Homo sapiens: one gene and its partner. The protein of the gene in region 1 interacts with the protein of each later gene in a biochemical or structural test. Each region holds a gene or a part of one and is shown in the gene's direction. Other genes may lie near its edges. The genes, in order: KDM8 and HEATR5B.

Region 1 (7,278 bases):
AATTCTCCTACCTCAGCCTCCCGAGTAGCTGGGATTATAGGCGTGGACCACCACGCTGGCTAATTTTTGTATTTTTATTAGAGATGGGTTTTCACCATGTTGGCCAGGCTGGTCTCGAGCTCCTGACCTCAGGTCATCCACCCTCCTCAGCCTCCCAAAGTGCTAGGATGACAGGCGTGAGCGATGCACGTGGCCTTAATATAAGACTTTATAAACAGCAATTCAGTGAGGAGTTCTGGGAAGCCAATCAATAAAGCCAGGCCATAAGGCTACTCTGGCTAGTCCTTTCCTCTAGAAAACCTCTTGATACAACAAGAAGCCTTTTTATCAGACCAGTATATGGGAAATGCCAGAAGGCTGATGAGCCTGGACCTGAGGCCATTCAGAAAGGCAGTGACCTGTGGCTCGCACCTGACCTTCCCAGGAGGGCCATCTCAAGTGGTTGGTGGTGTGAAGGCTGCTTCTCATAGCCCATGAGGCCAGTGACCCTGGAAGATTGTTTCATACAGCCAGCAAGAGAGTGTTTCCCCAGCCAGACCAAGACTCCTTCTGTAAGGCCATTTTGCATGGCTAACAGGAGCCAATGTGAGGCTGCTCCCAGCGGGGTAGATGGACACAACAAACAATTCTTTCCTGGCACAATGAAGAAACCACAGATCGATTTGTAAAACTAAGACAAAATCTGACTTCACCTGGTCCTCAGACAAGCCCCCATCTATAGGAAGGCCAGTTTTTAAAACAAGTTACAAGGGCCGGGCGTGGTGGCTCACACCTGTAATCCCGGCACTTTAGGAGGCTGAGGTGGGTGGATCACTTGTGGTCAGGAGTTGGAGACCAGCCTGGCCAACATGGCGAAACCCCGTCTCTACTAAAAATACAAAAATTAGTCGGGCGTGATGGCATGCGTGCCTGTGGTCCCAGCTACTCAGAGGCTGAGGCAGGAGAATCACTTGAACCTGGGAGGTGGAGTTTGCAGTGAGCCGAGATCGCATCACTGCACTCCAGACTGGGTGACAGAGCAAGACTCCATCTCACAAAACTGCTTTGGAAGACTGCTTCCTATACCAGGATGTGGCTGTTTGATATGGTAACTACATAAAAGGCCAAATCATGAGAGGTTTGGGGAAGCCTATGCAACAAGGCAGAAGACTGATGCGGCCAGAATGCCACTTCACCATGCTGCCAACATAAGGCCTTGTAGGAGGCTATAGTTTTATTTTTTGAAACAGGGTCTCACTCTGTCACCCAGATGGGAGTGCAGAGGCACAAACACAGTTCACTTGCAGCCTTAAACTCCTGAGCTCAAGCAATCTTCCTGCTTCAGCTCCCGGAGTAGCTGGGGCTACAGGTGTGTGCCACCATGACCAGCTAACTAATTTTTTAATTGTTTTTAGAGACAGGGTCTTTACATGTTGCCCAGGCTGGTCTCGAATTCTTGGGCTCAAGCAGTCCTCCTGTTTCAGACTCCCGAGTAGCTGGGATTATAGGTGCCCTGCTGGGGGATAGTGTATAATAATCTTGAGGCCTTTGGGGAGGCCATTTCAAGTGGCTTATACAGAGGCAATCTGAAAAGCCATTTTGAAAACAAACTTATACAGCCATCCTGAAGCCTCTGTCTCTGGAAAACCATCATATATTGTCAACGTAAGTATCTCTGAAGGCCTTTTGATAAGGCCGTTCATTGAAGAACTCTGCATTAAAGAATAATCATAAGGCTATTTCATGTGGCCAAGAGCAGATAGTTTTGTACAGCCAACTCACAGTATTAGGAGGCCATCTTTCCCAGAAGGCTGTGTCCATTGGCCTTCAACATGAGGTCTCCAAGGCCGATTTGCAAAGTAGCAGATAGGCCGCCTATGAAGACCAAACATGAGGCCACCCTGGGAGGCCAGGTGACAAAGCAGACACGGGGCCACTGGGGGAACCTGGCTACAAAGCCGCACACGTGAGGCCACCTTGAGAAGCTGGCTTGGTAAGGCTGATAGGCGCCCTGTGAGGGGCCGTTTTATAAGGTCACCCTGAAACACCAATTTACAAAGCCCGTAATCTGCATTGCAGAGAACAGGTTTATAGCCCATTTGAAACCCTCTGGGAGGCTGTTTTCTAAGGCCATCAAGAGACAGGTTTACAAAGCTGGTACATAGAGCCCCAGTGGAAGCCAGTTTTATAGTAGGGCAATAAATGGTCTCCTGGGAGGCCTTTCCACTGGCCTTTATGAGAAGCCAGGATATGAGGCCCCTGAGGTCTTTTGGATGCTCAAGATGAGACTTCTCCATGTTGCTCTATAAGATTCATGTAAGCCACACACGGGATGAGCCAGGAGGCCACCCAGGGAGGCCAGGGATGGGCCCATGTGGTGTCTTGTGCTGGCCTAGTGGATAAGTCCATGCTGGAAATTGGACTGTGAAACGCTCCAAGAAGGCTGTGAATGAGGCCAACACAAGCCTTCTAGGAGGCTAGAGATAGAACCCACCCTGGCAGGCTGGGGCTCTCTGAGCCCTACCATACCCTGAGCTTGCTAGAAAGAAAGTTCATTGTGAACCAAGAATGGAAATGAACTCATTATAAGCTCAGCCCTGTGGATACAAAGTCCAAAGAGCTCACCCTTGAAGGCAATGAGTGTTCTGGGCAGACACTGCCACTTACTGTGTAGTTTGGCACAAATTGCTTAACCTCGAAATCTCAGTTTATTCATCTGTAAAACTCCCATCATAGGATTGCAAGGGACGTGTTAATCTATGTCAAGCATGCAGCATTGACATGGCGCACAGGAGAGGGTGCTGAGATCAGCCAGAATTTAAGCCCTGCTTCTGCACAAATGATTGACCGTAGGCCTTGGGGCAAGTCACTTCATTTTTGTTTTTTTGTTTTAATTTGAGTCAGGATCTTGCTCTGTCACCCAGGCTGGTGGCATGATCTCGGCTTACTGCAACCTTTGCCCCCAGGCTTAAGTGATCCCACCACCTTTAATCTCCTGAGTAGCTGGGACCACAGGCATGTACCGCCGTGCCCAACTAATTTTTGTATTTTTTGTAGAGACGGCGTCTTGCCATGTTGGCCAGGCTGGTCTTGAATTCCTGAGCTCAAGTGATCCAATTGCCTCGGCCTCCCAAAGTGCTGGGATTACAGGCGTGAGCCACCATGCCGGCCTTCTCGAATACTTTTCAAAGCCTGGCACTCCTGAGTGACTGCCATGAGGCAGACTCTGCTTTTAGGCTCTGGGAAACGTAGGGGAATGAGCTACGTTCTTGCCCTGGTGGAGCTGGCAGTGCAGTGTTGGATAGACACACGTGTAAGCAGGTGTTTTCATACATCCTGACGAGTACTGTAAGAGAAGCTCAAGGGCTGCAGGAACACAGAACACTGTTGGAGAGTCTTGGCAGGCCTCACATAGGGATATTTAAGATGGGCTTTAAAGGTTGGGTAGGAGTTTGCCAGGCAGCGGAGGGGTATGGGAGGCACTGCAGATGAGGACAATACACGTTCCTTTCTGAACAGACGTTTATCCAGTGCTTGCTGAGTACCAGGTGTTGCGCCAGGCCCTGAAGATACAGTGGTGACCCCAGACAGATGAGGGCCCTCCCCTCCAGAGCTTCTGCCCAACAGAGAAGACTGCTGTTGAAAAATCCTCGCAGATGAGATGCAGGAAGCTGCGGGAATGCACAGGGGATCAGGTCTGTCCTGGTGTCTAACTCTTGTTTCTCTCCACCTCCCCAGGCACGGGACTGAACCAGCTGGTGGTGGCCCGATGGCTGGAGACACCCACTGCCCCGCAGAGCCCCTGGCCAGAGAAGGCACTTTATGGGAGGCCCTCAGGGCGCTCCTGCCGCACAGTAAAGAAGACCTGAAGTTGGACCTCGGGGAGAAAGTGGAGAGGAGCGTGGTGACATTGTTGCAGCGAGCCACTGAGCTCTTCTACGAGGGCAGGAGGGACGAGTGTCTGCAGAGCAGCGAGGTGATCCTGGACTACTCCTGGGAGAAGCTCAACACGGGCACATGGCAGGACGTAGACAAAGACTGGCGCCGGGTCTACGCCATCGGCTGCCTCCTGAAAGCCCTGTGTCTGTGCCAGGCACCTGAGGATGCCAACACTGTGGCCGCAGCCCTGCGGGTCTGTGACATGGGCCTGCTGATGGGGGCAGCCATCCTGGGGGACATCCTTCTTAAAGTCGCTGCCATCCTCCAGACACACCTCCCTGGAAAGAGGCCTGCCCGTGGCTCCCTCCCAGAGCAACCCTGCACAAAGGTATGTGGGGGAGATTCTCCCCAAGCACACTAGCCATCCAGCAACCCTGTTGTTCTAGAAATTCCGAGTCATCTCTCCCCTGGGGTGAGGCCTCGTGGCCTGCAACCCCTCTGGTGGAAAACAGCATTGCCATTGATTTTGGATTTCTGTTTGTTTTTGGAAGCAGGGTCCCGTTCTGTCGCCCAGGCTGGAGTGCAGTAGTGTGATCTCGGCTCCTTGCAGCCTCCACTTCCTGGACTCAAGCAATCCTTCTGCCTCAGCCTCCTTAGTAGCTGGAACTATGGGTGCATGGCACCACACCCAGCTAATTTTTTTAGTTTCTTATTTATTTTTTATTTTTTGTAGAGATAGGGTCTCATGTTTCTCAGGCTAATCTGGAACTCCTGGCCTAAAGCAGTCCTCCTGTCGTGGCCTCCCGAAGCACTGAGATTACAGGTGTGAGCCACCGTGCTCAGCCCCCATTGACTTTGGAAATGGAACAGCTCCATTCATTTTCTCTCTTTTTTTTTTTTTTTTTTGCAAAGGCAGCGCCCTTTCAGCAGAGAGGCAGCAGAGAAACTTCGTGGTTCCTGAGGGAAACAGCTTAAAGCGATTGTGTGGGTGAGAGCTGCAGCCAGCGGCAGCCCGTTTCTTTCAGCTTCTTGGTGGGCTTGCTGAAGTCTCACCCAGGCGAGGCGATACCTCCAGCTGCTCCTGTCTCTCTGCTCCTGGGTTTGGATGAGATACTACAACTAGCTGATGTCTGTTTTGGGGTCAATCTCTCCCACCCCTTGGGTCTATGTGCCTGTTCCAAAGAGCACCCCCAGGAACAGAGCATGGTTTACTCTGAAGGCTTCAGGTCCTGGTGCCAACACACAGGCCTCACTTGCAACACACCCAAGCAAGTCACTTAACCTCCTTTGAGCCTCGGTTTCCTTGTCTGTAGAGTGGCAGAGTACTGACCCACAGAAAGAAATGACTAAGACTGTACTAGACACTTGGTAGTGGAATTATGGGATGTTTCTGACATTTTTCTAAATGCTTTGCTATGTTTTCCGAATTTCCTACAATGCATATTATTATTATTATTATTTTTGAGACGGAGTCTCACTCTGTCACCCCGGCTGGAGTGCAGTGGCGCAATCTCAGCTCCCTGCAACCTCTGCCTCCCAGGTTCAAATGATTCTCCTGCCTCAGTCTCCCAAGTAGCTGGGATTATAGGCACCCACCACCACGCCCGGCAATTTTTGTATTTTTAATAGAGACAGGGTTTCACCATGTTGGCCAGGCTTGTCTGGACCTCAGGTGATCCACCCACCTCAGCCTCCTAAGTGCTGGGATTACAGGCGTGAGCCACAAATTATTTTTATATAAGAAAAATGCAAGTGGTTGACACTAAACACACAGGCATGTAACCAAAATAAAAGAAAATCAAATAAAGGGAGAAGAAAATTTTTCCACAAATATGTCAGACAATGAATATCTCTATTACGTAAGGAATGGTACAAATCAATAGGGAAAAAATCTTGAGCCCCAGGAGGTAGAAATCCAGGAACCTGAACAGACTGTTCACAAGAAGGAAATAGATCTGTTAAACAAATGTGCAGGAGAATGTTCAGCCTCACCTCTGGTTAAAAAAATAAAAGAGAGAGATGCAAATAGCAAAACAGCATTTCATCTTTGGCTGTTAAGTTAGCAAACAAGGCTTCATATGATACCCGGTGTTGCCAAGGGCACCATGTGGCCAAGGGCATGGGGTGTGGGTTGCTCTTTTGTTTCATTTTTTTTACAGACAGGGTCTTGCCCAGTCACCCACGCTGGAGTGCAGTGGCACAATCATAGCTCTCTGCAGGCCGGGCATGGTGGCTCACGCCTATAATCCCAGCACTTTGGGAGGCTGAGGCCGGCAGATCACCTGAGGTCAAGAGTTCGAGACCAGCCTGGCCCACATGGTGAAACCTCATATCTACTAAAAATACAAAAATTTGCTGGGCGTCCTGGCACATGCCTGTAATCCCAGCTACTCTGCAGGCTGAGGCAGGAGAATTGTTTGAACCCGTGAGGCAGAGGTTGTAGTGAGCCGAGATTGTGCCACCGCACTCCAGCCTGGGCAACAGAGCAAGACTCGGTCTCAATAAATAAATAAATAAATAAAACATAGCTCACTGCAGCCTCGACCTCCTAGGCTTAGGTGATTTCTCCTACCTCAGCTTCCCGAGTGGCTGGGACTACAGGCATGTACCACCACGCCGAGCTTTTTAAATTTTTTCTAGAGCCAGAGGTTTCTCTATGTTGCCCAGGCTCGTTTCAAACTCCTGGGCTCAAGCAGTCCTTCCACCTTGGTCTCCCAAAGTGCTGGGATTACAGGTATGAGCCAGTGTGGCTGGCCATTTCCCAGCAGGTTCACACCTGTGGACACTGAGGTTCTCAAGCAGCAAGTAACTTACTCAGGTCACCCAGCTGGGAGATGGTTAAGGAAATGATGGTGCAGCCACTCCTAAGAAACTGTAAGGACCGGGTGGCCATGTGGAAACTGCTTTTGATAAATGATTGGAGGGGAGAGGCAGGGCTGCTGCTTCATCATTGCTGTTACTCCCAGTGGGTCAGAGATATTTTGCGTGTGTGTGTGTGTGTGTGTGTGTGTGTGTGTGTGTGTGTGTGTAAGATGGGAAAAGAATAGGAATGAGAAGACCTTAAGATGGTGAAGTTGGAGATAGTAAGTTTTCCTTTATTGCAGAATGTCTGTGAAAGCAGTTTATAATGAAACAAACATTTTTGATGAAATGGTTAAGAAAAAAACCACCTTGATCTCATGAGGAGCAAATAGTAATAGTAGCAGTAATAATAACAAACGTTGTCTATTGTTGTTACTGGTACTCTTGACAGCTAAGCTCTCCTACCCCTGACACAGGTTCCTGGTGGAATACCTCAAATGTCGACTTCCTGAGGTGGTTGCTATTTTGTTCTGTTTTGATTTTAAACAGAAAGCAAGGGCGGACCATGGTTTGATTCCAGATGTGAAGTTAGAAAAAACAGTCCCCCGGCTGCACCGT
Region 2 (7,278 bases), on another chromosome or scaffold:
TAGAGCTAACTGAAAATTATGAATCGTGAATTAAAGTGTTTAAATTAATGAGATATCATTCCTTAAATATGCTAAAATAGTCATCTGTCTTAGATTCACAACTTAAAGAATAATTTGCACATTGATTCATTGAGGAAATGTTTAGTGCCAGAAACACCGCGTCAAATGGTGGGAGTAAAATAGCAAGCCAGATGCATACAGCACCTATCCTCAGGGAGCTTAAAGTTTAGCAATCAAAAGCTAGAGTTTATGCATTTCCAAGTCCAGAAATACCTAAAAACAAGAGTTATTTGGCCAGGCATGGTAGCTCATGCCTGTAATCCCAGCACTTTGGGAGGCCAAGATGGGTGGATCACTTGAGGCCAGGAGTTCTTCAAAAACAGCCTGCCCAACATGGCGAAACCCTGTCTCTATTAAAAAATACAAAAATTAATCAGGCGTGGTGGCGTACACCTGTAGTCCCAGCTACTCAGGAGGGTGAGTTGGGAGGACTGCTTGAACCCAGGAGGCAGAGGTTGTAGTCAGCTGAGATGGCACCACCGCACTCCAGCCTGGACAACAGAGCAAGACTCTGTCTCAAAAAAAAAAATTTAATTATAGTCTTCAATTTATTAATCCATTATATCCTAGTCTGTATTATGTATTTTATAGTCTATTAATTAATAATGAATGCAAAAAAGAAAGTTTTACTATCATTTAAAGGTTCTTAATGTTAAGGTCATAAATTCGTTATTTGATTTTTTTTTAAATCCTGAAAGCAGAATTAAATATAATGATACGTATTGGGGATTTGTGGGCCAGAATGTATTCTCAATTAGTAGTTTGGCAAGCGATCTTTGGTTGTCTCTTGTCAAACACATTTCGATTCTAGTGGAAGCTAAAAGGTTGGGGTAGCAGGCAGCAAGGTTAATTAATGGGAACTTACAGAAACATTCCAGTAAGAGGTAACTTAAGGCATTTTCCTTATAGATTCATTTTCTGGTCAGTAATTTAACAGATACCTCCAATATATTGGAACACTTAAAGTAGCAATGGTAATAAAGTAATAATAGCTGTTAACATTTATTGAATGTGTATTATGGGCAGCATTGTGTTAAATTCTTTATATGCACTGACTTTTTAATCACCACAGTACCGTTTGAAATAGGCATGTAAGCCCATTAACAGATAAGGAAATTGGGACAGAAAAATTGAACATCTTGCTCAATGTCACATAACTAATATAACTAGTGGAATTGGGATTTGAACCCGAGTCTTCTTTCTGCAGTATCTGTGCTTTTATACACTGGATTGCTGCTGCTTGCTAAAATTAGGTTGTATTCCTGGAAGCAAAGATGTATCTCAGTATATATTTTAGCATTATTATAAAGCTATTAAACAACATTTTTAAGTCACTTCAGTGTTTAGTTCTACAAGTTTTCTATTGAGAAATAACTGCATAGTTTTTAACACTCGGACATCAACTGGTATGGCTAAAATCATAAATTGTATAGACCAAAAAAATCATACCACAATTCATTTCTCCTATGTCAAAGACATGATTTTGTGTTTCCAGAAGCAGTAGTGAATGACACAAGTGGAGAAAACAAATCTGGCGCAGCAGACATTGCAGCAAGCCAGCATGTGATGGTCTGTGCCCTCCAGGAACTCGGGAGCCTGGTGCAGAGCTTGAATGCCACCGCATCCCCTCTTATTCAAGAAGCATCTATAGGTATGACATTCAGTTACTTGCTAGTATGTGTTTCCACTTTTTTCAGTCATAAGTGTGATTGATATTTAATTCCTGATTAGTTGCTTATCATCATCATTAGCACTTCAGATCATCAGGTTTTACTTAAATTAATATTCATTGTGATAGGCTGGGCGTGGTGGCTCGTGCCTATAATCCTAGCACTTTGGGAGGCCCTGGTGGGCAGGTCACTTGAGATCGGGAGTTCAAGACCATCCTGGTCAACATGGTGAAAGTCTGTCTCTACTAAAAATACAGAAATTAGCCAGCTGTGGTGACACGTGCCTGTAATCTACTTGGGAGGCTGAGGCAGGAGAATTGCTTAAGCCCAGGAGGCATAGGTTGCAGTGAGCCGAAATCATGCCACTGCATTCCAGCCTGGGGGACAAAGTGAGTCTCAAAAAAAAAAAAAGTTTCCTTGTAAAGAATATTGAATTAAATGGTTAAATAAAGTTTTGGAACAGAAATCAAAAGCAATTGTGGTAGTTTTTTTATAAAAATTGACTAAAATTTGTTGAAGACTTCTATTAAATTTTACATCAATATTGAATATAATTGTACTATGTTCTTCATAGAAAATGTTCCTTTGAAGTACTCTACTGTATGTAGTTTTAGGCAAAGTTGTGGATCTATATGTGTGAAAGCTTGGTGATTGTCATTTCAGTTATTGTTTTTTAGATAGTATTTGAGTTTCTGAAATCATTTGACTTCATTAAAGAGTAATATTTTGAGTATTTCTTGTTTAGGGCTTTTGGAGATTGTGACTTCAGTGCTGCTTCATCCAAGCATGGCTGCCCGACTTGCTGCTGCATGGTGTTTGCGCTGTGTGGCTGTGGCATTACCTTTCCAGCTGACACCATTTCTAGACAGGTGTGCAGAACGGCTCAACAACTTGAAGACCTCACCAGAAGCTGTCAGTGGATATAGTTTTGCAATGGCTGCTTTGTTAGGTGGAGTACATCAGTGTCCTTTGGGCATTCCTCATGCCAAAGGAAAGGTATGACGGAGATCCTAGACTTGGGAATGCTGTCACGTGGGCTTTGGTCTTTATAGGAACGCTGCTGTGTTTAGTGTTGAACAGGGTGGTCAAATAACAGTTGTACTATGTTATCATAAAACATAGTGTTCTTACTATGGTGTTAACAGACCCTATTATAATTTGATATTTAATTCTGATGTAAGGATAATAGATTTTGTCCAAGTCTAGTAACATGTTATAATTTATTTTAGAGGGAAAGAGAAAAAAAACAGCCTAGGCAACATAGTGAGACCCCATCATTACAAAAAATAAAAAAAGTTAGCCAACTTCATGGTCCTAGCTACTGGGGAGGATGGGTTGGAAGGATCACTTGAGCCCAGGAGTTTGAGGTTACAGTGAGCTATGAACATGCCACTGTCCTTCAGCCTGGGTGACAGACCAAGACCTACCCTGTCTCAAAAAAAAAAAAAAAAAAAAACCCAACCTTAGATATAGTAATTATTTGAAAGTCAGAGCTTTTCTTTCAGCTTTTAGAAATAAAAGTTCACATTGCTATATATTCAAAGATGTCAGGATAATACGCTATTGTAATATTTAGCATTTTGATAATGTTTAGTAAAAATTGAGTGGTTTTAATAAATCATGGCCGGGCATGATGGCTCATACCTGTAATCCCAGCACTTTGAGAGGCCGAGGCAGGTGGATCATTTGAGATCAGGAGTTTGACACCAGCCTGGTTAACATGGTGAAACCTTGTCTCTACTAAAAATACAGAAAAATTAGCCGGGCATTGTGGCCCATGCCTGTAATCCCAGCTACTTGGGAGGCTGAGGCAGGAGAATCACTTGAACCCAGGAGGCGGAGGTTGCAGTGAGCTGAGGTTGCACCACTGCATTCCAGCCTGGGTGACAGAGAAAGACTCCGTCTCAAAAAATAAAATAAAATAAAAAATATGAGTAGCTTTTTTTTCTCCTTTCTTTCTGTTGTATACTACTATCATGGTTTTCTTCTCAGTAATCTTAAGTGTTTATATAAATATTATTTGAAACTTTACATAGGCAGATTGGGGCTAGAGTTTTAAATTTTGATTTTTTTTCTGGGACATTAAGCCCATGTCCATTCATAGCAGTTGCATAGCTACCGATGAAATCCAGACTTCCCTCTCACTTTGTCATATCGTTGCTTCCTCATTCTCATCTTCCTCAGACTTTCCATCTTCCCCACACGTCCCATCTTCCTCATACCACTTTCATATTTTACATTTGCCCAGAGACCCTTAGGGACTACCCAGTACTCAGAGAGTAAAATATAATCTCCTTTGTCTGGTAAACTGGTATCTTATAATTTGACTTCATTCCGCCGTTCATTCAAATTTCCTGTTGCTCTAATTAGACTAGTTATCTTCCTTCCTTCCCTGGCCTTTTTCAGCTTCGAAGCCTTTGCTCTGCTAACCTCTTAGAGTTTCATCTCCCCTCTTATTCAGCTGCACCAAATTTAAGTCTATACTAGCCATTCTGTGTGGATGTTAATACAGCAAAGTACCGAGAACAGTGCTAGCCCATGTGACCACTAAATAAATGCTGTCATTATTAGCACTATTATTCCACATTCAAAGATTTGTTGAACTCCTATTATGCATCTACCATTGAGCTAACCTTGCCTGGGCGTGGTGGCTCAGACCTGTAATCCCAATGCCTAGGGAGGCCGAGGCTGGAGGATCACTTTAGGTCAGAAGTTTGAGACCAACCTGGGAAACATAGTGAGACCCTGTCATACAAAAAATAAAAAATGAAATTTTTAAAATTTTCCAAGTATGTTGGCATACACTTGTAGTCCTACCTACTCAGGAGGCTGAGGTAGGAGGATCCCTTGAGCCCAGGAATTCCAGGTTACACCGAGCTATGATTGTGCCACTGCACCCCAGCCTGGGTGACAGAGTGAAACCCTGTCTCTAAAAAACAAACAAATAAGTAAGCTAATCTTTTGGAGCTTACAGTCTTAGAAGACACAGGAAAAATGAGAAGTGGATTTGTCACATGATGAAATGACAAAGTAGTAGCATAGATGCTGTATTAACTTATTTTATCCTTGCAAGGCTGAGATAGGCATTCCTATTATTTCTGTTTTACCAGTGATGGAACTAAGCAGTGCTAAATGAGAATGCGAGTAAATGGCAGAGATGGCATTTGGCCCTAGAGCTTGTCCTTAACTACTACACTGTTCTGGGTCTCTTCAGAGTCATCAGTGCAATCAAGACTAACCAGGTCTTGATGTTGCCTCTTTCAAAAACATGCTAATAACACGAGAGGACAACTTCTTTTTTTTTTGGAGACGGAGTCTCGCTCTGTCACCCAGGCTGGAGTGCAGTAGTGCAATCTCTGCTCACTGCAACCTCCGCCTCCCCAGTTCAAGCAATTCTCCTGCCTCAGCCTCCCAAATAGCTGGGACTACAGGTGCCCACCACCATGCCTGGCTAATTTTTTTGTATTTTTTGGTAGAGACAGGGTTTCACCGTGTTGCCCAGGCTGGTTTTGAACTCCTGAGCTCAGGCAATCTGCCTGCCTCAGCCTCCCAAAGTGCTAGGATTACAGGCATGAGCCACCGCATCCAGCCAACAACTTCTTTTAAGTAATGTATGCTAGTTATCTGTTTCCTTATTTAATTTAACTTGTTTGAATTAAAATCCAATTCTAAACTTTTCTTGCAGATGGTAGTTAGTATTGCTGAAGATCTTTTACGAACTGCTGCCCAAAATAGCAGGCTATCTTTACAGCGCACCCAAGCTGGCTGGCTTTTACTTGGAGCACTTATGACTTTAGGTATAATTATATTTGAGTAGGATTTTTGTCACGCTATAACTGTCAGTAGCCTGTAAAGCAAATTTAATTTAAAAGTGTTAAGCTTCACATTCTGGATTTTCATTGAAGTTGTAAAAATGGTGTAAAGATGTTTTCCTCGTCATTTGCTAGTAGATTTCTCTTTTTGGTAATTATTGCTTAAGTACATTTAATGAGAAAGTTGTTAGCAAAGTTTCACCTTTACCATCAGAATAACCTTTGTCTACCTGATGAGTTTAGTGTTTAAAAGAGATGAAAATATGAGGGAAAATTTCATACCCTAAGTGAAAACCAGCAGTGTGATTTTAGAAGAGTGGTAAAGTCACATTTAATTGGTATTGTTAGTGCTGCTTTTCTGGGGTAACCCTTAATGTGTTTCACTCTTAAGTAGTGTGACAAATCTGCATTGTAGGCAAAATTTAACATTGTACATAGTACAAAAATACCTATTATTGTGATGGGGTATGTTCATATTTTAGTTCATATGTTTAGCTGCTGCTGTAAAAAGTGTGTGCATATATGTACTACAAAGTTATGACACAGATCTAAGCATCTATCTGTTGGAAATTATACTTTGACCTACTTTTCTTTTCTGAAGAAAACAAAAAGTTGCAACTCATTTCCAGAAGTTTATGTTAAGTATGTTCAGTGGTATGTTAAATGAATTTTTTAGCAATGTAAATATAGATTCCTAGGTCTGAATATATTGCCTTTCCATGAAACTAAATTAACCACATAAATTGCCCCCAAAACTAAGGAATATGTATCTGTATGTGTGTGTGAGTGGGTATATTTGTTTATATACATATGTATATGAAAAAGACCTCATAGAATGTGTCTCAGATATATTTTATTGATAATATGCAATCCACCATTCTCAATACAGTTGGGTTATCCTTTAAAAATTGCTTTTTGTGTATTTTATGTTTGGATTCTAAAAATATTGACAGTTTAAGGTGAATTTTGTTATGCTTTGATCTATATTTTAATCAGTGAATAAAGGTTGAAAATAATGTAATTTTAGAGATAAAAATAGAGTGAAATAACAGATATTGTTAAACATCAGTATTTTACTCTATTTTCATCTCTAAAATTACATAAAGTTTGTGTTGGGCTCATTTTGCTTGACACTTGTTTGTAAGGTATGTTACATATACATGGTTTTGTATTCTCATTTTCTTGGCTAGGACCATCTGTCGTTCGTTACCATCTGCCCAAGATGTTGTTATTGTGGCGAAATGTTTTCCCACGTTCCTTAAAGGAATTGGAAGCTGAGAAGGCCCGAGGCGATTCTTTTACCTGGCAGGTAACTTTGGAAGGTCGTGCTGGAGCTCTATGTGGTAAGAACTGAAAGGATTGTGCTTCACAATATTATGACATAACTAAAATATTTGTAAAGTAAAAGAAAAATCACTATTTTATAGTTTTTTATTTTACTAGGTAATGATAAATTCATAGGCTTTTAGATTTAAATAGAAACTTTATAAATGATCCACTTCAGTTTGCTAATTTTGTAATAAAAATGAAACCCAGACTCTGAAAAAGTGTTTAGACCTGGTGGTTAGACAGGAACTAGAACCCAGGCCTCTTATTCCCACTTGTTGCTATCTTACCTGTCAAAGAAGCACTGAGTCACCATGTATAAAAAAAAGAAAAAATACCCAACAGCTATTTAAAGAAAAAGAAACTCAGGATTACCAAAGTTATTGGCATTTGCAGTTAGTCTTTTCATA

The links.
Region 2: the proteins of KDM8 (region 1) and HEATR5B form a complex in vitro, tested with the Homo sapiens proteins (one study listed by BioGRID).

Annotation. Positions count from the first base shown.
Region 1 is NC_000016.10:27,206,376-27,213,653, forward strand, and holds part of KDM8 (bifunctional peptidase and arginyl-hydroxylase JMJD5), read left to right. Parts: intron 1-3,717; coding exon of another isoform or gene 3,718-3,748; coding exon 3,749-4,246; intron 4,247-4,770; exon of another isoform or gene 4,771-4,846; intron 4,847-7,209; coding exon 7,210-7,278. UniProt on the Homo sapiens protein: Bifunctional enzyme that acts both as an endopeptidase and 2-oxoglutarate-dependent monooxygenase.
Region 2 is NC_000002.12:37,060,188-37,067,465, reverse strand, and holds part of HEATR5B (HEAT repeat-containing protein 5B), read left to right. Parts: intron 1-1,555; coding exon 1,556-1,711; intron 1,712-2,475; coding exon 2,476-2,726; intron 2,727-5,415; coding exon 5,416-5,527; intron 5,528-6,732; coding exon 6,733-6,885; intron 6,886-7,278.